Linked DNA regions of Homo sapiens. The protein of the gene in region 3 interacts with the protein of the main gene of each other region in a biochemical or structural test. Each region holds a gene or a part of one and is shown on either strand. Other genes may lie near its edges.

Region 1 (8,325 bases), on a different chromosome or scaffold from region 3:
TATTCATTACAGTTATTTGCAAGTGCATTAAGTCTGTATGGCTTCTATGACTCTTTGTCAGTATGCCTCTGGTCAGTTTGTAATTATTAAAATATGAAACTAATTTATTGGAAGTTCAGTAGTAAGATTAAAGTCCAATACTAGGAATGCATACTGGAATATAATCTTTAATATTTCAGCTGAGGCTCTTATTTCCTCCTATTACTATTATGCTCTGTTTTCCAATACATTCTCTCCTCAGATATTAAATACTTTCTTATTCAAAGGGAAAAATAGAACCAATAAACTGGAATCTCAATAGCTTTTTTGTATTGCATTTAAATGGATAGTTATAAATGGGATTATCCATTATGATTATGTATTATTAAAGCATTTATAATTCCCATAGTGTTTTTACGAGAATTTTAAATTTTATTTATGTATTTACATATAGAATAATGCCGGACTTGAAGATTTTGAAAGGAAAAAAACCCTTGGAACAGGTTCATTTGGAAGAGTCATGTTGGTAAAACACAAAGCCACTGAACAGTATTATGCCATGAAGATCTTAGATAAGCAGAAGGTGAGTGTATTTGTTGTTATTTACCTTCAGGGTAAACTTTAGTTTTATCAGCTAGACTATTAAACAGATTCAGTATAATGACTTACCATTGACAGCTTCAAATAATTTTATTATTAAATTTAATTTTTATTGTAACTAAATTTTTATTGTAACTATATTATACATAGTTAGTATACAGTCAGCCCTTCCATATCTATGGGTTCCACGTCCATGGATTTAACCAATCACAGATTGAAGATATTTGGGAAAAAAATTACATCTATACCTAACATGTACAGACTTTTGTTTCTTGTTATTATTCCCTAAACAATACAGTGTAACAACTATTTACATAGCATTTACAATATATCAGGTATTATAAGTAATCTAGAGATGATTTAAAGTATATGGACAGTGTGTATAGGCTTTATGCAAAGCCTCTGTCATTTTATATAAGGGACTTGAGCACCTGGGCATTTTGGTTTCTGCTGTAGGTCCTGGAACCAACCCCCAGGGATACTGATGGACAACTATAATTTATTGTGACAATTATGGACTAATTTGTTTTGTAACTATTACAGAAGTTAAAATGTGTACAGTAGTGATCCAACCACTTCATGTTACAAATTTTGAAAACCTGAGGCCCAAAGATTTGAAATCATCTCAAGTCAGAAAGTTAGTTAAATAAAAGGCCTAGATTAAAACACAAATCTGACTCCTACTCAATTTATTTGCTCAATATTATCAGTATACTCCTAATTTTATATATTAATACCTGGCTGGTATCTTTAATTACTTTTGTTATTTATATTTAACTTCTTGACTTCTGTGACTATCCTCACATTGACCATTAGACTCCAGCAAGAAAGAATGCCACCTTCTAATGATTTACACATATACAAGAAAATTATTTATATGTCTTGCTAAAGTCACCACTTCTTAAATTCAAAATAGAATCACATATGGAATAGAATCACAGTCTTCGTGAAGTCAAGATAAATTACTTTCCCCTTCTATTAAATAGAAAATCTAGAGGAAGCTTAAGTCTAAATGACCTAGGATACAAAGATAGTTTTTGTTATAAAGATAGTTTTTTCCCCAATATTTTGTGTGTCCTCTTCTATGGCAATATAAAATAAATTTTTAGAATTTATACCTATATTTATTTAGATATTATAAAATGAAAATTGTTCATTTTTACTCACTATTTTTCAGTTATGGACTTTCTCTTCATTTTTAATTTTCTTATTCATCTTCTGAAGTATTTAAAATCACTATCTACTTATTGCAGAGATTTGAGCCAGCTTTTATAGAGGACTTTAAGTCATTAGGACCTTAGTATTTTCACATTCATTTTTAAATTACCTTAAGTAATTATATATTTATTTAAGCATAATTGACATAACTAATTTTTAAAGTAATTTCTTATGAGTTTGTTTCTTATTCCTACTTAGCTCTCACTTCTTAATTGAAACCATAATTGACCTTCCTAAGACCAAGTTTTAAATCCTCTATTAGGTTTTCATTTGAATCCTATTATTAAAAGTAATGGCAAAAACCGCAATTACTTATGCACCAACCTAAAAGTTGGTAATTGTTATTATCTTCCTTATCCAATTCTAACAATTTTGCTTATCCAAGTTTATTACTATATGGAAAACATTTTTTTAAATGATAACTTTTTAATTTTGCTTAAATACATTAAGAGATATTTATCTCTCAATTACAGGTTGTTAAACTGAAGCAAATAGAGCATACTTTGAATGAGAAAAGAATATTACAGGCAGTGAATTTTCCTTTCCTTGTTCGACTGGAGTATGCTTTTAAGGTAAATTTTAGTAATATCTAAATAAGATATTTTCAACCTAAATTTTTTTTAAGATGAAACTATAAATGGATTCTAAACCAGATGATAAGCCTGAAGAATATGAATAAACAAAACGAATACCTCTAGAGTTTGTGTAATTAAATCCTATTGTGCTTATAACTTAGGTAACGTTTGAAAAGGTTTTGATTCTCCCTGGGGAAATTGTTCAAAGGTGATACTCATGAGATGGTATTACAAAAAGAAATATTTCAATTTATCAAAAACCATAGGGATATCTTAATAACAATTCTTATGCAAATTCATACACCCAACACATTTTCTACTTTGATTAAGCCCTTTTTGCCACTATCTCATCTTCTTTTACTTAGTAATTTGAGTTCTAGTCTTTTCACTTATACAAAGCAAAATTTTTGTTCCACTATTCAAATGTCTGAAAAATTGTACCACATTTATTATTTAAATTGGTCACTTTTGAGCTCTTTGGAATGATACTGGCATCTCTCTGCAATATTGAATCATATGAAACATTTTAATCTTTTTTCTCCTTTATTCTTTAAATTAAATGAAGACCTATGTATTTAAAATATTAAAACCATTAATCTTTTATACATAAAATGTAAATATTCTTATTAACTTTTTAAATTGTTTTTTACCTTTGTTATTCTTTTGCATATATTATAACGTTACTTCATTGCCTGAGTATTTAATTGTTTGAGAACTAGATGTTCTCTGCAAGAAAAGGAAGAGCAAAAGTCCCAGACTAGTTTGTGGCAAAAATAACTAGGAGGGGAAAAATATGAGTGTCTCTGTATAGAAAAGCTAGAGCATGTTCCATTTATTCTTTATTTCTCAAGGTTATTAATCTGTCAGAGAGATTTTAAATTTTTCTAATTCAGCATTATATAATATTAAAATAATTTTGACCTAAGTTGAATAATTGTATTTCCTTTTTATTTGTTCATAGGATAATTCTAATTTATACATGGTTATGGAATATGTCCCTGGGGGTGAAATGTTTTCACATCTAAGAAGAATTGGAAGGTTCAGGTAACTAATGGTTTTGCTTTCTTCAAATCTTTATATGCTTGTGTTGTTTAACCAGATTTTTAAGTTGATGCCAATGCCAAAAACTTATTTTGTTTGATTAATATTTTGGCCATATGAAGCATTAGGTGGAAACAAAGAGGCCACATCATACACAAGTTTTAATATAAAGAATATAAAAATTTAATATAAAAAAAGGACTTTGAAGCCAATTTAAATGTTATACTACTGCTAGATATTGTGAGGGTCCACTACTTGAAGAGTTTTCAGAAAATGGAAAAATTAATTGAATTTTAAAATATCAATATTTATTAAACAAAGATTAATAATACAACTCCAGGACAGAGGATTGTTTTAAGGATGAAGATGGAAAATAAATATATAGAGAAATAATAATAATAGTATTATGGTAATAAGATTATAAAAGTTTGTTTTTCACAAATTTAATTCTCCTTAAAGTTCTTGCTAAGTTTAGTTTTTAAAATATACACATAATTTAACGGGAGTTTGTACCTCATCAGGTTATGACTAATAAGATCTCAGAGTTATTAAAATAGGTTATAGAATCTGATGGTTTTACCTGTACTTAATAGTTTATAAGCTTCTACCGTTCATTAATAATCACTAATAGAATAAAGCTAAAATAAAAAACAGGTACAGCTTCATTCAGTATAGTGTGTTGAAGTCAAAATAAAAATGTAGAGACAAATCTCTAAATTCAACATTTTATTGAGGAAGCAAGAATTGCAGTTTGAGGCATATACACAGACTAGGTGGTCTTCAATGTGTCTAGAAAACAAAGAAAAGGTTGGAGGTTTTATAAAAAGAAATTTTATGTTTATTTGTTTTGAAACAAAGTTTACTAGCACTAGTTAAGTTTTGGGGAGCTGGCAAGCTCTGATTGGTGAGTGATGGTGGTGGGTCAGACTCGTCTAAGAGTCGCAGTAGGTTGTCTCAGTAGCTGTTAGAGAAAACTGGTTTCAGGTTACAATAGGCAGTTTCAGCAACTAGACTTGTGGAAAATATAATTTTTTTGTTTGTTTTTGGTTTTTTTTTTGAGACTGAGTCTCCCTCTGTTGCCCAGGCTGGAGTACAGCGGCACCATTTCGACTTACTGCAACCTCTGCCTCCTGGGTTCCAGTGATTCTCTTGCCTCAGCCACCCGAGTAGCTGGGACTAGAGGTGTCCGCCACCACATCCGGCTAATTTTTCTATTTTTGGTAGACACAGGTTTTCACCGTGTTGGCCAGGCTGGTCTCGAACTCCTGATCTCAAGTGATCCACCCTCCTTGGCCTCCCAAAGTGCTGGGATTACAGGTGTGAGCTACCACACCTGGCCTTAATTCTTGGAGCAGGTGCTGTGTGCCCTGAGTGCGTTATTCCCTGGCCCCTCGACTCTGATTTAGTTAGGTATGATGAGAATGACTAATTTGTATAATCAGCTTTCACATTTTTCCCTTTTGATCAAGATCTTTCTCTGAAAGCATTGCTTGTCAACCATCTTGAAGTTAGGCTTAATTATTCCTTGGTGCTCGGATGGACTTGTTCTGGTTGTCTCTGTCCCACATATGAGAGAAGTTATCTGTTGGGGGGTGTCTATGTAGGGACCTGGGCCACATTCAAGTAACGAGGAGGCCAGAAGGAAAATTTTTCTCAAAGTAGATTTTTGTCTGGAGTCCAGCCAGCATCGAGTTCCCACTTATCACTTCCATAGGTATTAGCAGTCATCTTTAAGTGTTGGGCTAACGTTATTCTGTTGGGACAGCTGCCTTTACAAAGATTAGATAGGCACTAAGAACAAAGCTTACAAATGATAGTACAAAAAAATTAACAATATAGTAAAATGTATTTGTGCAGTGCTTTTGAACTAAAGCCCAGGCCTAAGGGCAAAAAACTAAAGAAATCAAAGGACCAGGGGAAACTGGTGAGACCTGCTATAGCCATTGACTAACATTTTATGACTGGGTTGAACTAAAGCAGAGAATGCCAAACTTTGCAAGAGGGACCACCAGCACAAATTAAACAAAAAATTGTGTTAAGGATATTGTCGATGTTGTGACTAGATGAACTGAAAGAATTTCTTAAGTCAGGCTTTGTCAATGGCTTTAGCAGGTCTCACCAGTACCTATAGCAGTTACTGATTGTGAATTTTAAATTACAATATTATTTGGTTAAGTGAAAAAGCAGGCATTAAGAGGGGTAAGAGTTTCATTACAATATGGAGTCTTGTTCTAGTGTTTTGAGAAAAGCTGTTCACACCATGGAAAACATCAACTTTCTTGGCTTTGTTTACAGTGTAAATGTCTCTGGCTATGGCTTTGGGCAGTTTGATGAACTTTCTGTGTGGCCCATACATCAGGCATGAGACTTGTTTCTTAAAATTTATATAGTTTCAGCTAACAGGACTTCAGGAACAGAGCGGTTCTCATTTTAGTAATTTTATGGAAGAAAGTTCGATTGGAGGAACCTAGAAGAATTTAGGACCTTGTCTAGTCTATAGGTAGATAACAAGACTCAAAAATAATGTACAGACTTACAGTCTAATAACAGGTATATTATAGTTATTCTTTAGAAAAAACTTTTTTCTCTACATTGATTACATAGGAATCTTGGATTTAAAAACCTCTTGAGGCAAGGAAGCCGAACCAAGGCAGTCTTAGATTTTCCTTACAGTCTTGAGGTTCCTGGTCCTGCCAGGAAGTAACAGTTTTTATTTACTCATTGTAATGCTGAGAAACCCTTGAAGTCAGGCATTTTATGCACTTTTTAAATACGATAGTTCAGTTAGAGCCTTAGTAATATAATCAGTGTTTTCATATTCTGCTATAAAGAGAGAGCAGATTTTTACTGGACCTGTGCAAATAGTCATATTCCCATAAAAGTACTTACAACTAATTTTTGAATTAAGGAGAAAAAAAGCAAATGCTTTTATCTTTTTTTACAAAAATATACTTTACCAAATTGCTATAAATTATAAATAGCTAAAGAGATAAGTTTTTTTAAATCTGGAAACCAAAATATTTAAGAACTAACAATGTAACAATGTTTTAAATGAAAGTTATGAAAACATTATTTTTATCAATTATTTAATTTCATGTAATTTTTGTTCTGCTTGATCTTAATTAGTATTTTCATATACTCATCTTTTTTTATTAGGGTTCTGGAAATTTTTATTTAGTCTATTGATCTTAAAGTTATTAAAAACCTGTATTTAAGGGTACTTGTTGGGGTCTTTTCTATGAATCTGATTGTAAATAATTTTGAGAATTCAAAATATTAACTCTGGATGACAAAAATCTAGAATAGCCATGGGTAAAAATCTGATGAAAGTTTACAATTAACAAGTAAAATTAGTTATTTCTATTTTATCTAGCATTTTAAGACAATAACCAGAATTATGAATAACGTTAATTTCTCTGAATTTATATAATTTTTGAAACATTCATATGAACAACATAGCCATAAATGCAACTAAAAGATCTAGTATCACATCATTTATACAATCTCTTATATAATTTAAAAATAAATCTAATTATTTAATACGTCTACAAGATGAGATCTGTGTCTTCAAATGTTTTCCAAGGGCCCAGCTGGAAAATCCCAAAGCTAATTCTAGATTAAGAACATTTAATTTAGGATTTGATTTTTGGGAAGTTTGTTAAACATCTTAAAAGACTTAAAACCCTTGGTCAAAACGGAGTAACAGGTCACTGTAAAATAATAGTCATTTATTTAACCAGAGTGATAATCAAAAGACATCAGATGTAATACAGAAAGTTATATGAATGTGAAAACTTTTATTATTTTTAAAGCTCAGTTTTTCTGAGTAATGAAAAACCTGATAAAGACAACATAGGATATTATCTTGATAAAATATAAAATCTAGTTTTTTAGACAAATCACCAAAATGGTAAAGAAAAATCTTCTGCAGTATGCTCATTATTTCTTTTTCCCATTTAGAGCTTTCCATTAAAAAAATTACCAATCATCTGAAAGTTGATTGAGTACTTGAATTTAATCAGACACAGGAAGAATGTGTCCAGGGTTATTGAGTGTACACTGTGTTATAGAAAAATATGAACAAGAAGAGGACTATCTTGAGCAGGGAAATACATGGCTCTCAGTAACAGCATGAGAAATTTCCTGGTTACATGAAATAATACAGACATACCAAGAAGAGCCAAGAATACAGATTCAAATTATACTGAAAGAAAACTTCGTTTTTCTAGGCCTTTAAGATAAACGTTTCTGCATCAGGCCATAACAAAGTTCAAACTGAAAAAAAAAAAAAAGTTCTAGGAGTTGAGGAAAAAGGTTGAAGGAGGGAGTTATCAACCCAGCCAAGCAAAAAGATATACCTTTCAAGAAAGAGAAGGGGATGTATGACCTTCAAATCATGTGTAGTGTGACACAGCAAAAGCCGAACTTCTGAAATATAAATTTCAAAAGGAAAACTTTACCTCAAGAAATGGAATTACTATTTTTAATGAAGAGGACAGCATTTCAAACCTAAAACTAGGGAAATTAATTAGATCTCAGGAAGAAATGTGGCAGAAATAGAAATTGCACTTTGGAAGATGGCTGTCAAAGAAACAGATTTTATAATTAAAAATCACAACCTTTTGCAGTATTATTGAGAGCAGATCAATACTTCAAGAAAGTTTTGTTTAAATATAGAGAGCAAGATTCTGGTCCTTTGTCAGTGCACCCTTGACACCAATCATTAATTTTTAGAAAAATATGTAAACAATTTTCCTTTCCAATTTCTTTCCCTAACTATTTACACATAAAACTTTTTTCATAAGGTCCATCCTTTCATTTTTCCAAACCCCCAGTCTTAATCTTATAATTTTTCTTTTCTTCTTCCTCCGTTTTTGGAACAGCCAATCATTTTACTTTAGGAAAAATATTT
Region 2 (8,325 bases), on a different chromosome or scaffold from region 3:
TCGGCCTCCCAAAGTGCTGGGATTACAGGCGTGAGCCACCGCGCCCGGCCGAAACTCCGTCTTTAAAAAAAAAAAAAAAAAAAGAAAACCAAGAAAACCAACAATACAACAGACAAGTTACTATAATAGTATGATGACCATCCATGAACTCTTCACCTGAGTTTACTCATTGTTAATACTTTGCCACATCTGCTCTGTCTATATTGACACACGCCTACATAATTTCTTGTTCTGCTGAACCATCTGCAAATAAATTGCAGAAGTCATGTTCCTTTACTTATAAATATGTCAATGTGTTATCTCCTAAGAACAAAGGCATTCTGTTATATAACCCCAATTTGATTTTCTTTTTTTTTCTTTTCTTTTTTTTTTTTTTTGGGACAGAGTCTCGTTCTGTCGCCCAGGCTGGAGTACAGTGGCGTGATCTCAGCTCACTGCAAGCTCCACCTCCCAGGTTCATGCCATTCTCCTGCCCCAGCCTCCTGAATAGCTGGGTCTACAGGCACCCGCCACCACGCCCGGCTAATTTTTTGTATTTTTAGTAGAGACGAGGTTTCACCATGTTAGCCAGGATAGTCTCGATCTCCTGACCTCAGATGATCCACCCATCTCGGCCTCCCAAAGCACTGGGATTGCAGGTGTGAGCCACCGTGACCAGTCTTGATTTTCAATTTTAGGAAACAAAACTTTGATAGAATTCTATTGTCGAATATATGGTGCATATTCGAATTGTCAGATTTTCCAAAAATGTCCTTTATAGCAACCTTGCACCCTTCTGGATTCAGGATCCAATATGGCCTTTCGTTGGCATGGCTCTTCCTTAGGTCTTTCTTTTCTGTCACTGACATTTTTGAAATGTGCTGGCCGTTGTTTTGTAGCATGCCCCTTAACTTGGGTTTGTCTGATTATTCCTCAAAATTTAGATTCAGGTAATCCATTTCAGGGGTCGGTGGGGGCAAGAACAGGACAGAGGTGATGCTGTGGCCTCCCTAGTGCAGGACACTGGGAGGCACATGATGTCTGTCTGTGCTTCTATTGATAACTTTGATCACTTGGATAAGGGAAAGGCCACCAGATTTCTTCACAGCAAAGGTGCCTTTTTTCACTGCATGATTAACCTATAATCTGCAGGTAGATAATTTGAGAATATCTTGTTCAGCAACTAATTTTCACCCAATGGATTTGGCATCTGTGGATGATTCTTGCTGAAGCAATGATTACTATAATCCTTATTTATTTTTAAAAGCAGACTCCTGCAGACCAGCTCCCCCAAACAATACAGTAGTTCCTAAATGGTGGCAACATGCCACCTCCTCTCCTGTCATGAACATCTGGAGATGCAGGTTGCCCTGTTGACCTGTGGGTGGACTGCACTATTGCCATTTAATGGGAGGTACAGGGAGGCTAACAGAGATCTACTGCTCAGTTATTTACTAGGGTCATGGAAAGGCTCTGAAAGAGAAACTAAGAAATCAAAGGAGGAAAGGGCTCTAAGAAACTGTGGGCTTGGCCTCACTTCTTTGGAAGTGCAAAGCAATGAATTACATCAAGTGGTCATTGTTCCAGGCGTAAGGGCCTCTGGAAACAGACACTAAAGACCTGGTCCCTGAATCTGCCCCAGGAGATGCTTTGAACTATCTATTTCACTACTGCAAGCTTTCAACCCAGCCTGGAAACTGTACAATCCAGGGTTTCATCACTGAACCTAATCCTACATTATTGTCTTTGACTTTTCATCATTCTTTTAAACTTCGATTAAAACCCATCTTGCCAGGCCTTACAGTTTGGAGCATGTAGAAATATCTCTAGATTATGAGGAGTCCATTGGCTACACATAGAAAATGAGAGTTTTTTTGTTTTTTGTTTTTGAGATGGAGTCTCACTCTGTCACCCAGGCTGGAGTGCAGTGACTCGATCTCAGCTCACTGCAACCTCAGCTTTTTGGGTTCAAGTGATTCTCGTGCCTCAGCCTCCCGAGTAGCTGGGATTACAGGTGTGTACCACCATGCCCAGCTAATTTCTTGTGTTTTTAGTGGAGGCAGGGGTTTCACCATGTTGGCCAGACTGGTCTTCAACACCTGGCCTCAAAGTGATCCACCTGCCTAGGCCTCCCTAAGTTTTGGGATTACAGGCATGAGCTGCTATGCCCAACCCAAAATGAGAGTATTTTAAAGCAAGTGTTGTAGTTGGTTGGTTGGCATGTGGGTTCTCAGTTCTCAGCATCTGTGTGATTTACATTATAGAGGTACCTTCAAGTTTGAAAGGAGAAATACTGATAGTAAGCTACTTAGAACACAATACTATGGGCTGGGTGCGGTGGCTCACGCCTGTAATCCCAGCACTTTAGGAGGCAGGCAGATCACTTGAGGTCAGAAGTTCGAGACCAGCCTGGCCAATGTGGTGAAGCCTTGTCTCTACTAAAAATACAAAAATTAGCCGGGCGTGGTGGCAGGCACCTGTAATCCTGGCTACATGGAAGGCTGAGGCATGAAAATTGCTTGAACCCAAGAGACAGAGGCTGCAGTAGGCAGAGATCACGCCACTGCACGCTAGCCTGGGCGACAAAGTGAGACTCCAAACTCAAAAAAACACAATAGTATGTATGCAAAGTAAAATTGCATTTCTACCATACTACAAGAGCTCAAAGAGAGGCAGCACATCAGACCAAGAACGGCTGTCTGTGAAGGGAAGGGAACAGGTGAAAGGAGCACAGATAAAGGGAATAAAAAATAAATTAAGAGAATGGTCTTGTACAGACAAATGACAAAATGCCATGAAGTACATATTATTGATTTACATATAAAATGATATAAAATAACCAGTTGCTGCAAGTCAGTTGAAAAATCCTCACACTTACGTTATTTTCTGTTCCATAAATGTGTCTGGCTCCTGGGCAGTGTAGGATGTGATTTCCTGGCCCACGCCAAAGTCCTCGGACACTTCCACTCTCTTTTCAGGAGGCACAAAGATGGGGGCTTCATTCACATCCAGCACATCCACGGTGACGGTGGCTGTGGAGGTGGTGAGAGAGACCTCAAAAGGTACCACATTCGTCACTGCTACGTGTAGAATGTACTGCTGCTTGGCCTCAAAATCCAAGCCCTAGAGAGCAGAAACAATGAAGTTAAAAACAAAACGAAACATTTTGTGTTAGTAAAAATAAAATTAAATCCTTAACTGTTGCTTTTGGTAATATATTAGGTTGGTGCAAAAGTAACTGTGGTTTCTGCCATGACTTTCAATGGCAGAAACCACAATTACTTACCATGGCTTCTCAAATCTGCTCACCTACTCAAGAGGAAGGCAAAGCTGGGGCTATTCTAGGGATCCAGTCACTTCAACAAGCAATTCACTCAAATTCTTAGTTTTCAAGTTTCTTTCCTTATTTTATTTTTTTCTGAGACAGAATTTTTGCTCTTGTCACCCAGGCTGGAATGCAATGGCTCACTGCAACCTCCACCTCCTGGGTTCAAGCAATTCTCCTGCCTCAGCCTCCCTAGTAGCTGGGATTACAGGAGCCCGCCACCACACCTGGCTAATTTTTTGTATTTTTAGTAGAGACGACGTTTCACCATGTTGGCCAGGCTGGTCTCGAACTCCTGACCTCAGGTGATCCACCCGCCTTGGCCTCCCAAAGTGTTGGGATTACAGACATCAGCAACTGCACCCGGCCATCTTTTTTTTTTTTTTTTTTTAAGAGATGGAGTCTCATTCTATTGCCCAGGTTGGAGTACAGTGGCATGATCATAGCTGAGTGCAGCTTCAACCCCCTGGGCTCAAGTGATTCTCCCACCTCAGCCTCCCAAGTAGTTGGGCCCACCGCCATACACTACTGCGCTTGGCTAGTTTTCAAGTTTCTAGGACATTTTTCAAAAACAACCATATCTGCCCCACTTCTAAAATAAACCAGCACAAGAGCAGAGACCAGTAAATCATTTTCTCTGTCACCGCAAAATGGAAAGAGCTGAGGGAAGGAGAATGTTTCTGGGAAAGAGCCTATTAAAGCAGATAGTACTTCTTTTTCAATTTCAGGATCCTGTGTAACAGCTTCTTGATTTCTTTTTTTTTTCAGACAGAGTCTCACTCTGTTGCCCAGGCCAGGGTGCAGTAGCACGATCTTGGCTCACTACAACCTCTGTCTTCCAGGCTCAAGCGATTCTCCTGCTTCAGCCTCCCAAGCAGCAGGGATTACAAGTGTGCACCACCACGCCCAGTTAATTTTTGTATTTTTGGTAGAGACAGGTTTTCACCATGTTGGCCAGGCTGGTCCCAAACTCCCGACCTCAGGTGATCTGCCCGCCTCGGCCTCCCAAAGTGCTGGGATTGCAGGCATGAGCCACCATGAGCCACCAAGAAGCCTTAGCTTCTTGATTTCCTTTTTTTGAGACGAAGTCTCACTCTGTTGCCGGGCTGGAGTGCAGTGGCACGATCCTGGCTCACTGCAACCTCCCTCTCCTAGGTTCAAGCGATTCTCCTGCCTCAGCCTCCCTAGTAGCTGGGACTATAGGTGCACACCACCATGCCCAGCTAATTTTTGTATTTTTAGTAGAGATGGGGTTTCACCATGTTGGTCAGGATGATCTCGATCTCTTGACCTTGTGATCTGCCCGCCTTGGCCTCCCAAAGTGCTATGATTACAGGCGTGAGCCACCACGCCCGGCCTCCTTTTCCCCGCCCACCCCTGGAGACTGAGTCTTGCTCTGTCACCCAGAGCTGGAGTGCAATGGCACGATCTTGGCTCACTGCAACCTCCACCTCCCAGGTTCAAGCAATTCTCCTGCCTCAGCCTCCCTAGTAGCTGAGATTACAGGCACGTGCCACCATGCCTGGCTAATTTTTGTATTTTTAGCAGAGACTCAAACTCCTGACCTCGTGATCTGCCTGCCTCAGCGTCCCTAAGTGCTGGGATTACAGGCGTGAGCCACCACACACAGCACAGTTTCTTGATTTCTTACATGAGCAGGAAGAGCCACTGCAAATCCCACATGGTCCACTACAATCTGGGAAAGTCACCCTGTCCCCCTGCCAAAGCGAATCTACTTCTAAGAAGATACCAGGGGACAAGGGTATGAACAGCTGTGAGGATGCCAGTTTCTGCATCTTGCCAGGTACCATACAAACCTTTGCTGTTTTCAAAATGCCATCGTTGTTCACTGGATTTGTGGTGACGACAAATTGTCCACCATCATCATTCAATATGGTGTATACAGCCTCCCACGCTGGGGTATTGGGGGCATCAGCATCAGTCACTTTCAGTGTGGTGATTACGACGTTAGCCTCGTTCTCAGGCACCTGACCCTTGTACTGCAGAGCAAAGAGATGTGTCATTTACAAAGTACCAAGACTGCTAGCAGAGCTGAGTCTCAGGGGGCTAAAGGATTCCTCTTTTTTTGTTGTTCTTTTGAGATAAGATCTCACTGTCACCAGGCTGGAGTGTATTTGAGCGATCATGGCTCACTGTAGCCTCAACCTCCTGGGCTCAAGCAATCCTCCCACCTCAGCCTCCAGAGTAGCTGGGACCACAGGCATGCACCACCACACCTGGCTAACTGAAAGCAAGCTTCAAGGAGAAGATGTGACAAGGAGAGGCCAGGCAATGGGCGCACTGGGGTGCAATGGTACAATCTCGGCTCACTGCAGCCTCCGCCTCCTGGGTTCAAGCAACTCTCATGCCTCAGATGCCCGAGTAGCTGGGATTACAAGCATGCACCACCACGCCCAGCTAATTTTTGTATTTTTAGTGGAGATGGAGTTTCGCCACGTTGGCCAGGCTGGTCTCAAACTCCATCCTCAAGGGATCCACCAGCCTTGGCCTCTCAACTTGCTAGATTACAGGTGTGAGCCACCACGCCTGGCCATTATACAGGATGATTTAAACTTACCCTACTTGGTTCTCAATACCTTCTCCTTGAATGCATGTAATATCCTTGGCATACAATAATTCTCATAAGATGTCTTCCTGGCTATACCAGAAACACCATGAGAATGGAATCTTTGTGTGTGATGGTCTCTCCAGTGTCTAACACAGTGCCTAATATAAACTTAGAAAATATTTGTTCAATAAAGAAATGAAACCAGGTAATATTTGCTATAAAAATGTACCATGAGACTATGAAATCAGTAGGTGCTTTTTGCAACTTCACAATCTTGCACCAATTGGCCCCAGGCCAAGGGTGGAAAAAAGATACTAAAAGACAACTGCCATCTCAAGATGCTTGCTTTTAAGTTTAAAGTTAACATTCTCTAGTCTGGAGAGAGTTTTCAAAGACTTCGCCCATGAGCAGTGGTGACACTTAGTTCATGAACAACAAAAGACCTTTCTTTGGAAACCCTCTAAGGAGTTATAGAATTACCGTGGTGGGATTGAAGATCGGAGGATTATCGTTGGTGTCAGTGACTGTGATCACAGCTGTTGCTGTTGTGCTTAACCCCTCACCTTGAAGGTCAGCAGCTTGAACCACCAGGGTATACGTAGGGAAACTCTGCAGAGAGATCGACACAACCAAGTCAGGACCAGGAACACTAGCCACCTTTGGCCTAGCCCAGCCCAACACATGGAACCAGAATATTTAACCATGTGCTTCATGCCAGCCTGCCTGTCTTCTAGGCACGGAACCTCTGGGCACAAGCTTAGATGCAAAGCTTAGACCATCACTGTATTAACTGACAACTGGCCTAGCAGGATTTTGCTTTGTCCACGGGATTGAGCTAATACACATTTGTCCTCCACACCCTCTGGATCCTCCTGACCCCTGACCTCTCGGTCCAGCCCAGTGGTGACCACACTGATGACTCCTGTGTTCCTGTTAATGGTGAACATATTTTTGTCAGGGAGCTCAGGATCTTGGCTGAGGATGGTGTAAGCGATGGCGGCATTGTAGGTGTTCACATCATCGTCCGCGTCTGTGGCTGTGACCTCCATCACAGAGGTTCCTGGAAGAGTTCAAGGAGATGAAGGTTTAGACAAGCTGCACTTTGGGACTGGGTCAATACTGCTTAATCCAATTCTGCCCTGAGGGATAAAGGAGGGGACATGGGGGTGGTACCGTGTCAGAGTTCCCTAATTCCTAGAATTCTTACCAAAGTGCTAGGGGAGAAAGAAAGCTCAAACTATCAACTTATTATCCAGGTATAAATACACAAATGGTAATAAAGAAAAGAAAGGGAATGATTACCACAAAAGTCAGGGTGTGGTTATCTTTTTTTTTTTTTTTTTTTTTGAGACGGAGTTTTGCTCCTGTTGCCCAGGCTGGAATGCAATGGCGTGATTCGGCTCACCACAATCTCTGTCTCCCGGGTTCAAGCAATTCTCCTGCTTCAGCCTCCCAAGTATCTGGAATTATAGGCATGCGTCGCCACGCCCAGCTAATTTTCTATTTTTAGTAGAGACAGGGTTTCTCCATGTTGGTCAGGCTGGTCTCAAACTCCTGACCTCAAGTGATTTGCCCACCTTGGCCTCCCAAAGTGCTGGGGTTACAGGTGTGAACCACCACACCCAGCCTAGGGTGTGGTTATCTTTATGGAGGAGAGAAAAGAATGTGACCAAGGGGGATTGTTTAGGGCTTTAAGGTACTGGTAAAGATCTGTTCCTTAATTAGGAAGGTTGTTCTTAGCCAGGTATAGTAGCTCATGCCTATAATCTTAGCAGCTTGTGGGGCTGAGGTGGGAGGATTGCTTGGGCCCGGGAGTTTGAAAGTAGCCTGGACAACAAAGCAAGACCCTGTCTCTGAAAAAAAAATTTTTTTTTTTTTGAGACGGAGTCTGGATCTGTCACCCAGGCTGGAGTGCAGTGGCGTGATCTCAGCTTACTGCAACCCCCGCCTCCCGGGTTCAAGCAATTCTCCTGCCTCAGCCTCCCAAGTAGCTGGGATTACAGGCCCCCGCCACCACGACCGGCTAATTTTTTTGTATTTTTAATAGAGACGAGGTTTCACCATGTTGGTCAGGCTGGTCTTGAACTCCTGAGCACAGGTGACCCATCCACCTTGGCCTCCCAAAGTGCTGGGATTACAGGCATGAGCCACCATGCCCAGCCTAAAAAAAAAAAAAATTAATAATAAAAAAGGGAAGATTGTTCTTAAACTCTCCCTATTTTATATGTTTCCACAGGTAGACTGTTACACACATGCATATAACACAACAATGGCTTGCCAAGAAGTTCTGTCCGTAGGAAGGATCAGCTTTAGTTACACAACCTTTGGGCTTGGACAACACTTTGGGGTCCAAAGAACCTAAGAGTCTTTCTGAGTATTCAGATTCTCATTAGTGGATATACCTGGAAGAGCACCTTCCATGACAGACCCCTTAAAGACCTCCTGGGTGAAT
Region 3 (8,642 bases):
TTCAGCATAGAACCTCTCCTCATTACTAGGGGGACTCCTGCCCACCACTGGTTGAATACATACCTGCCATTTCCTTTAATCACCTGTAGTTCATCTAGATAGATGGACTCCAATACTTCAACTTCAGAGGGAAGGACCCTAGAGAGACAGGAGTAGACTAACTTACCATTACAGCTCTCCCTGTGGAAGCCTGCTAAGGCCAATAAAGGCAGGCTTTGTAGAAAAATGGCAATCTACCAGAATGCATTCTCCTGCTAAACTCCTTAAAAACAAGGAATATGTTACCTTAAGTTGTCAACTGGCCAAATAGAAGGCATGGAAATCAGAATTTTAGGCATCATTTCTGCCAACAGATGAAGAAGTGGATTCTAGAGAAGTAAAATGACTAACCAAGGCTTAACATAGGTAGAACTAGGCCCAGAGCCAGGTTTCCTGACTCCCTGTTTAAGTTTCATTCCCCTTAGTGGCTGAATCTCTGGTCTAGAGATATGGCACTCATTCATTAGCATTAACGTTACCAATATTACTCCAACCTTTCCCTACGTCACTGTCCAGTGTGGATCCCAGTGCCTTGGCTACTGTCTACATACAGTTTTAACACCAGTCACCCTAAGCCTTCTTAAAGGAGATAGCAACCTCAACACAACATATTTAGGGTGGTATAAAGGCTGTGTTGTAATGGAAGAGCCAGCAGCCTCGGAGTTAGTTAACAGGTACCAATCACTTACAAGCTATGCAATCTGGGACGTGACCTCTCTGTAAGCTTAAGTTATCCTGTCTGTCACATATAGATAATAACACCTACTCTCTAGGGTTATTGTGAGGATAAAAGGTGATTTGTTTACATAAAGTACCTAATAGTATCTGGGCTATCGTAGCTAGTCTACGTCCTCTTTTTTTCCTGTCTGTATATAACCTTCTCCCTTAGAAGGAAAGAGGGAAGGAAGGAGGTAATAGAGTACTCTGGATGTATTTATGACCTGGCTGTCTGGTTGATCTAGATCAGCCTGTTGAGGTTAGGATCCATGGTTCTGATGTAAATCAAGGGACACACATACTTAAGCATAGAAACAGCAGTTGTAATGAAATTGAAGCTGAGTGATCAGTTTGTGTCTACAGCTCTACCAAGTGATACATGGAAAAATGCACACTTTGCTTTCTCACACTGCTCCCTCTTCATTCTAAGAGTAAGGCTGCCCCAGCACGACCTATGTCAGTGTTGTTAAGTCTTAGGCAGAAACTTCAAAATATAAAATATAAAGCTTCACACCTCACAGATAACAGTGTAGTTCTGGCTGACATGGGAGTGGGAGTCTCACAGTACTACAGGCTGCTGCACTCATTGTTGCTGTCTCCATGGCTCAAGGTGTCTCCCCTGAATCTTAAAAGTTCCCCTGAACAGGTAAACTGTAAGTTATCCCAGCGCTTTGGGAGGCTGAGGTGGGAGGATCACTTGAGGCCAGGAGTTCGAGACCAGCCTGGGCAACAAAGCGAGACACTATCTCTACAAAAAATAAAAAATTAACTGGACACGGTGGTCCCAGCTACTTGGGAGACTGAGGCAGAAGAATCACGGGAGCCCAGGAGGTCGAGGCTGTAGTGAGCCATGATCTTGCCACTGTACTCCAGCCTGGGTGACAAAGTAAGACTCTGTCTCTTAAAAAAAAAAAAAAAAAAGAAGTTTCCCTGAACACTTTGAAAACCAGTAGTCTAGATACTCTTAATAACGGCCAGTACTAGCTGGGCTCCCTGAACCAATGTAACATTGAGGTGTAGCCTCAGTCAAGTGGCCCTTCAATACTTCGCCCACCCTAGTTATATGGGTCCTGGATGGGATGGTGGTAAGGTGGTGACAACAAAATGGGGGAGGGGGGCCGGGCGCGGTGGCTCAGGCCTGTAATCCCAGCACTTTGGGAGGCTGAGGCGGGTGGATCATGAAGTCAGGAGATAGAGACCATCCTGGCTAACAGGGTGAAACCCCGTCTCTACTAAAAATCACAAAAAATTAGCTGGGTGTGGTGGCGGGCGCCTGTAGTCCCAGCTACTCGGGAGGCTGAGGCAGGAGAATGGCATGAACCCGGGAGGCGGAGCTTGCAGTGAACCGAGATTGCGCCACTGCACTCCAGCCTGGGCGACAGAGCAAGACTCCGTCTCAAAAAAAAAAAAAAAAAAAAAAAAAATTGGGGGAGTGGGGACTGAAGAATGTCCTAGTACAAAGAATCTAAGGTGTGGAGTCAGACAGATATGGATTTCTATTCATAATTTTCTATCTTTTGGCAAATCACTTTACTTCTTTGGGACTCATCTAGTCTTCCCAGGTGCCTGCACCTCAGTTATTAATGAAAAGGAGGCCGGGTGTGGTGGCTCACGCCTGTAATTCCAGCACCTTGGGAGGCTGAGGTGGGAGGATCACTTGAACCCAGGGGTTCAAGACCAGTCTGGCCAACATGGCAAAACTCCGTCTCTACAAAAAATACAAAAATTAGCCAGGCATGGTGGCACACACCTGTAGTCTCAGCTACTCGGAAGGCTGAGGCAGAAGGATCACCTGAGCCTGGGGAGGTCGAGGCTGCAGTGAGCCGTAATCGCACCACCGCACTCCAGCGTGGGCGAGAGTGAGACTCTGTCTCAAAAAACAAAACAAAACAAAACAAAAAACAGACTTAAGTATATTACAAATCCGTCGTGATCCTCTCAACTATTCTGAGGTAAATGCCACACCCACTTTTTTTTTTTACAGCTGAGGACACTGACTCACAGAAGCTAGATGGCCTGTTCAGCATCACACAGCTAATAAAATGTGGAGTTAACCCACATTGATCCTACTTCCAAATCCCAGAGTCCTTCCATGTTCTAGTCTTTGGTTAAGAATGCTTGAGAGAAGGACTAGAGGGACTTTATATGAAGTGTAAAGCTTTATTCATACAATAGTCCTCACTAGTGCTGTGTGAGAGAGAGAAGGCTGAGGAAAGCGTCGGCGGAAAAAGGCTGATCCAAGGGGAAAGGGGGCCGGAACTGGAGGGCACTGGTTCTGAGAGGAGAAAGGGAGATGGGGAGGTCTGATGGGCAGGCATCCCCCAAAGCCCCTGAGAAAATTCATTTGAGGAGGAGAGAAAGGGATGGCGTGAAGCTGGAGGAAAAGGGATCGAACCGGATGCGGCGAGGCCTGAACTGGCCTGGCGGGCGCCGACCCGTTCTCCTCTCACTCAGATCAGCGCCCCTCCACCCTCCCGTTCCCCAGTCCAGCTTTCCCAGAGATGTCAGCATCTCTGCCATCCCTCATCCCTCGCTCCACCCCACACGCCCGCCGTACGGACCGTCTGCGACAGCTGCTAGGCCTCTGGACTAGATCCAGGCTGTCAGCCAAAGCCCATGCCCCCAAAGTTACCAGTCCTCCTCCCCTGCAGCTGCAGACGCAGACGCCGCCATATCTTCACCGGCCCGCAGCCGGAACCGGAAATGCCCTTAGGGAAGTCGGAGGCGGAAAACTAAGAGGGGTGGGCAGCTAGCGTCGTTTCTAGGCAACCGCAGACTCCGGGTCCTTAGCCGGGCCTGATGGCCCTGAGGCAGTTCGGATGTGTCCCAGGAAGTGCCCATGTGTGGTCCGCCGTCCATTCCACACCTCTGAGCGCCTTTGTCCTCTGAACTTCTCACCAGTTCTAGCGAGTAAAATTGTAAGAAAGGGAGCCGAAAGAGACCGGAGGGAGAGGCGGGTGGAGAAGAATTATAAGTCAGGCAACGTATGCAGGCAGCCAGAAGAGATGGGGCTAAACGCCAGGGAATCCGTCCCTTGGCCTGAGGAGCTTGGAGCTCCTAGGCTGGGGGTGAGAGAGGGGCTCTGGCCTGCGAAGCGCACGGGCCAGGGGGTCTGAGAGCGGGTGCTGAGGAGTCTGGGAGTGGCAGGAACTTGGGGGAGACTCAAAGGAGCAGGGTTGGTTGGGCGAGGCTAGGTTGAAAGAGTAGGGTCGAGTGAGCCAGGCTGGGTGAGGGAGAAGGGGAACCAGGTGTTAGTTGGGCATGGGGCCGGGTTGGGGACAGGAGGATGAAAGTGGGGAGGAACTACAAAGAGAAGCTCTGTTTGTTCCAAGAGCGCATCATCTTTGCATGCATTCCACCCTCCCATGTTTTTTGAGGCTTTATTGTGAAAAAGAGGAAAAGGCAAGGTGGCTAACATTTTTCCTTTCCCGTGCCCCAACTAGGCGTCCCAGATGTTGTGGAACTGTCCCTGGATCTATAGCTCTTCACCGTCTCTACTTTCTTCCTTCTAAGAGATCCTGAAACCTCTGTCATGGAAAAGTACCACGTGTTGGAGATGATTGGAGAAGGCTCTTTTGGGAGGGTGTACAAGGGTCGAAGAAAATACAGTGCTCAGGTGTTGCACAAAGAGGGATACCTTTTGGGTGGGATTTGGTACCCCCAACTCCAGTGGAAAATGGATCTAGAAGGAATGTATTTATACCAGTTTGTATTCCTAAGGTACTGACTCCCTCATACTTCTTATGGAGTATAAGCTTTGAAGTTGGATTATTTGGGTGCAAATTCCATCTCCACCGCTTTCTAGCCCTAGAATTATGGACAAATTACTTAACTTCCCTATGTCTCAATTTCCTTATCTCTAGAATGGGGATAAGAACAGCAACTGATTGATGGAGTTTGAGGATTAAATATGTTTTCACATTAAATCACTTAGTACAGTGCCTGGCTGTTAGTAAACAACAAATATTATTAGTCTCTAGCACACCATGTAATAAGAGGTAAACCACTTGAACTCTATTATTTCCTCTTCATTTTTTTTTTCCTTTCCTTTCTCCTAAATCTCATCTTGAGTGCTGGTCAAATCAGAACACTTCTTCCAGAAGGGGAAATGTTTTGCAGATGCTGTTTCCTCCTGGGATGAGGAATGGGGAAAGCCTGGATAAGGCCAGGGTACCATGGAGAAAATGGAAGCGGGAGACTAACAGAAATAATAAGAGTTACTCAAACACTCTAAAATCTGACTTCTGGAGCTCTGAGATTAAGGCTGAAATTCTAGATCTTTTCAGTAGTGTGATTAGGCGTTAACTTTTCACCTTACCACTGACAGGTCGTGGCCCTGAAGTTCATCCCAAAATTGGGGCGCTCAGAGAAGGAGCTGAGGAATTTGCAACGAGAGATTGAAATAATGCGGGGTCTGCGGCATCCCAACATTGTGCATATGCTTGACAGCTTTGAAACTGATAAAGAGGTGTGCTTTGACAGTTTTGGGCCCTGTCTCCCCAAGCACAAGGGTTCCAGGAATTTCCCAACCTCAGAATGCATGAATCTGGAGCCATCAGTGCCACTGCCTTCTCTCTGTAGGTGGTGGTGGTGACAGACTATGCTGAGGGAGAGCTCTTTCAGATCCTAGAAGATGACGGAAAACTTCCTGAAGACCAGGTATGCTTTCTGCCTTCAACTTCTCCCCACCTCCGACCTCTCTCCAGGTTAGAGAACTGGTAGAGCAAGCTAAGGACACTGAGAGTCTCCATTTCAAAGACTTCTGAGAAGAATATAAGAGTCTAGGTATATAGAGGCAGTGTAGTGTGGGAGTAAATTATGTAAACGTTGGAGTCAAAATATCTGAGCAGGAAGCTTGGCTCTGCTCCTTCCTAGCTGGGTCTCATTGGACAAGTTACTTTAATTTCTTTGTGCTTAGTTTCCTAATTTGTAAAATGGAGATAATAATCATGTTTGCCTGATAAGTCTATGATGAAGAGTGTTAAGTCATGTAATGTGTTTGAATAGTTAGCTATTATTAACATTATTGTTATTAGATACCTTTAGGGAAGAAGGGCCAGTGTAATGGTACCAGAAAGAGGGCAGTAAGAATAAAGGTTGTGGGGAGTCAGGATTTGGCACCAGGACGTAGTGGTTAGCAGTGGGATTTTGTTGCACATATCCTCCAGCCACATTTATTCTAGGCGTTTGTCTGTACCCAAGCAAGTAGGCCCCCCCTGGGATTCATTATTGCAGCATTCTCTTTCCTTCTGAGCACTCACCACTATTTGTAAGTAATCATATTTTTGAAATTATTTTATTTTTAATTGAATTTTATTTTTTGAGACAGAGTCTCGCTTTGTTGCCCAGGCTGGAGTGCAGTGGCACAATCTTGGCTCACAGCAAACTCCGCCTTCCAGGTTCAAGCAATTCTCGTGCCTCAGCCTCCCCAGTAACCAGGATTATAGCATGCGCCACCATGCCTAGCTAATTTTGTACTTTTAGTAGAGATGGGGTTTCACCATGCTGGCCAGGCTGGTCTCGAACTGCTGGCCTCAGGTGATCTGCCCGCCTCAGCCTCCCAAAGTGCTGGTATTACAGGTGTGAGCCACCACGCCCGACCACCATATTTGTTTTATCTGTCTTGTTTGTTTGTCTGACTACTTTTCTTGAAAAAAGGCATTTTGTCTTATTTAATAACAGGTAATGTGTATTGAATATTTACTATGTGCCAGGCACCATTCTGAGTATTATTTTGCATGCTTTAACTCAGTCCTCACAATAATCCTCCATGTAGATGGTGTTATTATATAGATTGTCACCTTAGTTTGCCCATGGTCAAGCAGATAGTAAATGAGATTCAATAAATTTTTCTTGAATGAATGAATGAGCAAATGAAAGAGTGATTAAACAAGGGGAACAATAACTAAGAAAGAATAGTGTGAAGCTCTGCAAGAAAGGGAAGGAAGAAAAGATTAGCAGTAATATTAAGAGAAATTTTTGGGCTTGTCAGCCAGCTGCTGTTTCTAACCTTTTTTTTCTTTCTTCCACCTCTTTAATTTCTAGGTTCAGGCCATTGCTGCCCAGTTGGTGTCAGCCCTGTACTATCTGCATTCCCACCGCATCCTACACCGAGATATGAAGCCTCAGAACATCCTCCTCGCCAAGGGTGGTGGCATCAAGCTCTGTGACTTTGGGTAAAGATTCTGAGCATCCATCTAAGCTTCCAGTTCCACACGGAATCTTTTTTTTTTTTTTTTTTTTTGAGATGGAGTTTCACTCTTGTTACCCAGGCTGAAGTGCAATGGTGCGATCTCCACTCACCACAACCTCTGCCTCCCGGATTCAAGCAATTCTACTGCCTCAGCCTCCAGAGTAGCTGGGATTACAGGCATGTGCCACCATGCCTGGCTAATTTTATATTTTTAGTAGAGATGGGGTTTCTCCATGTTGGTCAGGCTGGTCTCGAACTCCTGACCTCAGGTGATCTGCCCACCTCGGCCTCCCAAAGTGCTGGGATTACAGGCATGAGCCACTGAGCCTGGCCCCACAGGGAATCTTAGACCATACTCTTGACTTATTTGGGCCTCATTTTAGAACCGGAGCTAGAGGCTGGGACTGCTGCTGGGTCTTCTGGAACCTAATCAAAGGTGCTCCCTCTGCTCCGGTTTGGGATATCTCTATGTTAGGTAGTAGTGACCAGGTTTAGAATATCTTTTCCCTTTCCATTTCCATCCCATTATCTTCTGCAGATTTGCCCGGGCTATGAGCACCAATACAATGGTGCTGACATCCATCAAAGGCACACCACTCTATATGTCTCCAGAGCTGGTGGAGGAGCGACCATACGACCACACAGCGGACCTCTGGTCTGTTGGCTGCATACTATATGAACTGGCAGTAGGCACCCCTCCCTTCTATGCTACAAGCATCTTTCAGCTGGTCAGCCTCATTCTCAAGGACCCTGTGCGCTGGCCCTCAACCATCAGTCCCTGCTTTAAGGTAATGAATATTGAAAGGGAGATGACTTTTACATTAGAAATCTGTCTCCCTCTATCTCTGTTCCTTTTTCCAAATCCTTTTCCAGAGCTGAGGCGGGACTTTGCAGTTACTGAATTAATGGCTGTGTTATTCTGTTCTCGCATTGCTATACAGAACCACCTGAGACTGGGTATTTTATAAAGAAAAGAGGTTTAATTGGCTCACAGCTCCATAGCCTGTACAGGAAGGATGGCTGGGGAAGCCTCAGGAAACTTACAATCATGACGGAAAGCAAAGGGGAAACAGGCATGTCTTACGTGGTGGACCAGGAGGAAGATAGAGAAAGGAAAGGTGCTACACGCTTTTTTTTTTTTTTTGAGACACAGTTTTTTTTTCTTTTTTTTTTTTTGAGACAGAGTCTCGCTCTGTCACCCAGGCTGGAGTGTAGTGGCGTGATCTTGGCTCACTGCAAGCTCTGCCTTGCAGGTTCACACCATTCTCCTGCCTCAGCCTCCTGAGTAGCTGGGATTACAGGTGCCCACCACGACACCCGGCTAATTTTTTTGTATTTTTTAGTAGAGACGGGGTTTCACCGTGTTAGCCAGCATGGTCTTGATCTCCTGACCTCGTGACTCGCCTGCCTCAGCCTCCCAAAGTGCTGGGATTACAGGCATGAGCCACTGCTCCCAGCCTGAGACAGAGTTTTGCTTTTGTTGTCCAGGCTGGACTGCAATGGCGCGATCTCGGCTGACCGCAACCTCTGCTTCCCAGGTTCAAGCAATTCTTCTGCCTCAGCCTCCCGAGTAGCTGGGATTACAGGCATGCACCACCATGCCTGGCTAATTTTGTATTTTTAGTAGAGATGAGGTTTCTCCATGTTGGTCAGGCTGGTCTCGAACTCCCAACCTCAGGTGATCCGCCTGCCT

Evidence for each region.
Region 1: of the proteins of RNF25 (region 3) and PRKACB, one has a biochemical effect on the other in vitro, tested with the Homo sapiens proteins (one study listed by BioGRID).
Region 2: of the proteins of RNF25 (region 3) and CDH1, one has a biochemical effect on the other in vitro, tested with the Homo sapiens proteins (one study listed by BioGRID).

Annotation. Positions count from the first base shown.
Region 1 is NC_000001.11:84,181,767-84,190,091, forward strand, and holds part of PRKACB (cAMP-dependent protein kinase catalytic subunit beta), read left to right. Parts: intron 1-433; coding exon 434-562; intron 563-2,270; coding exon 2,271-2,369; intron 2,370-3,333; coding exon 3,334-3,416; intron 3,417-8,325. UniProt on the Homo sapiens protein: Mediates cAMP-dependent signaling triggered by receptor binding to GPCRs.
Region 2 is NC_000016.10:68,810,292-68,818,616, reverse strand, and holds part of CDH1 (cadherin-1 isoform 1 preproprotein), read right to left. Parts: coding exon 8,276-8,325; intron 6,934-8,275; coding exon 6,758-6,933; intron 6,483-6,757; coding exon 6,354-6,482; intron 5,305-6,353; coding exon 5,122-5,304; exon of another isoform or gene 5,055-5,121; intron 3,103-5,054; coding exon 2,858-3,102; intron 1-2,857.
Region 3 is NC_000002.12:218,668,542-218,677,183, forward strand, and holds the start of RNF25 (E3 ubiquitin-protein ligase RNF25), read right to left. Parts: upstream 3,462-8,642; 5' UTR 3,430-3,461; coding exon 3,389-3,429; exon of another isoform or gene 3,318-3,388; intron 139-3,317; coding exon 64-138; intron 1-63. Other genes in the region: STK36 (serine/threonine-protein kinase 36), read left to right, coding at 4,289-4,372, 5,084-5,224, 5,338-5,415, 6,802-6,932, 7,488-7,737. UniProt on the Homo sapiens protein: E3 ubiquitin-protein ligase that plays a key role in the RNF14-RNF25 translation quality control pathway, a pathway that takes place when a ribosome has stalled during translation, and which promotes ubiquitination and degradation of translation factors on stalled ribosomes.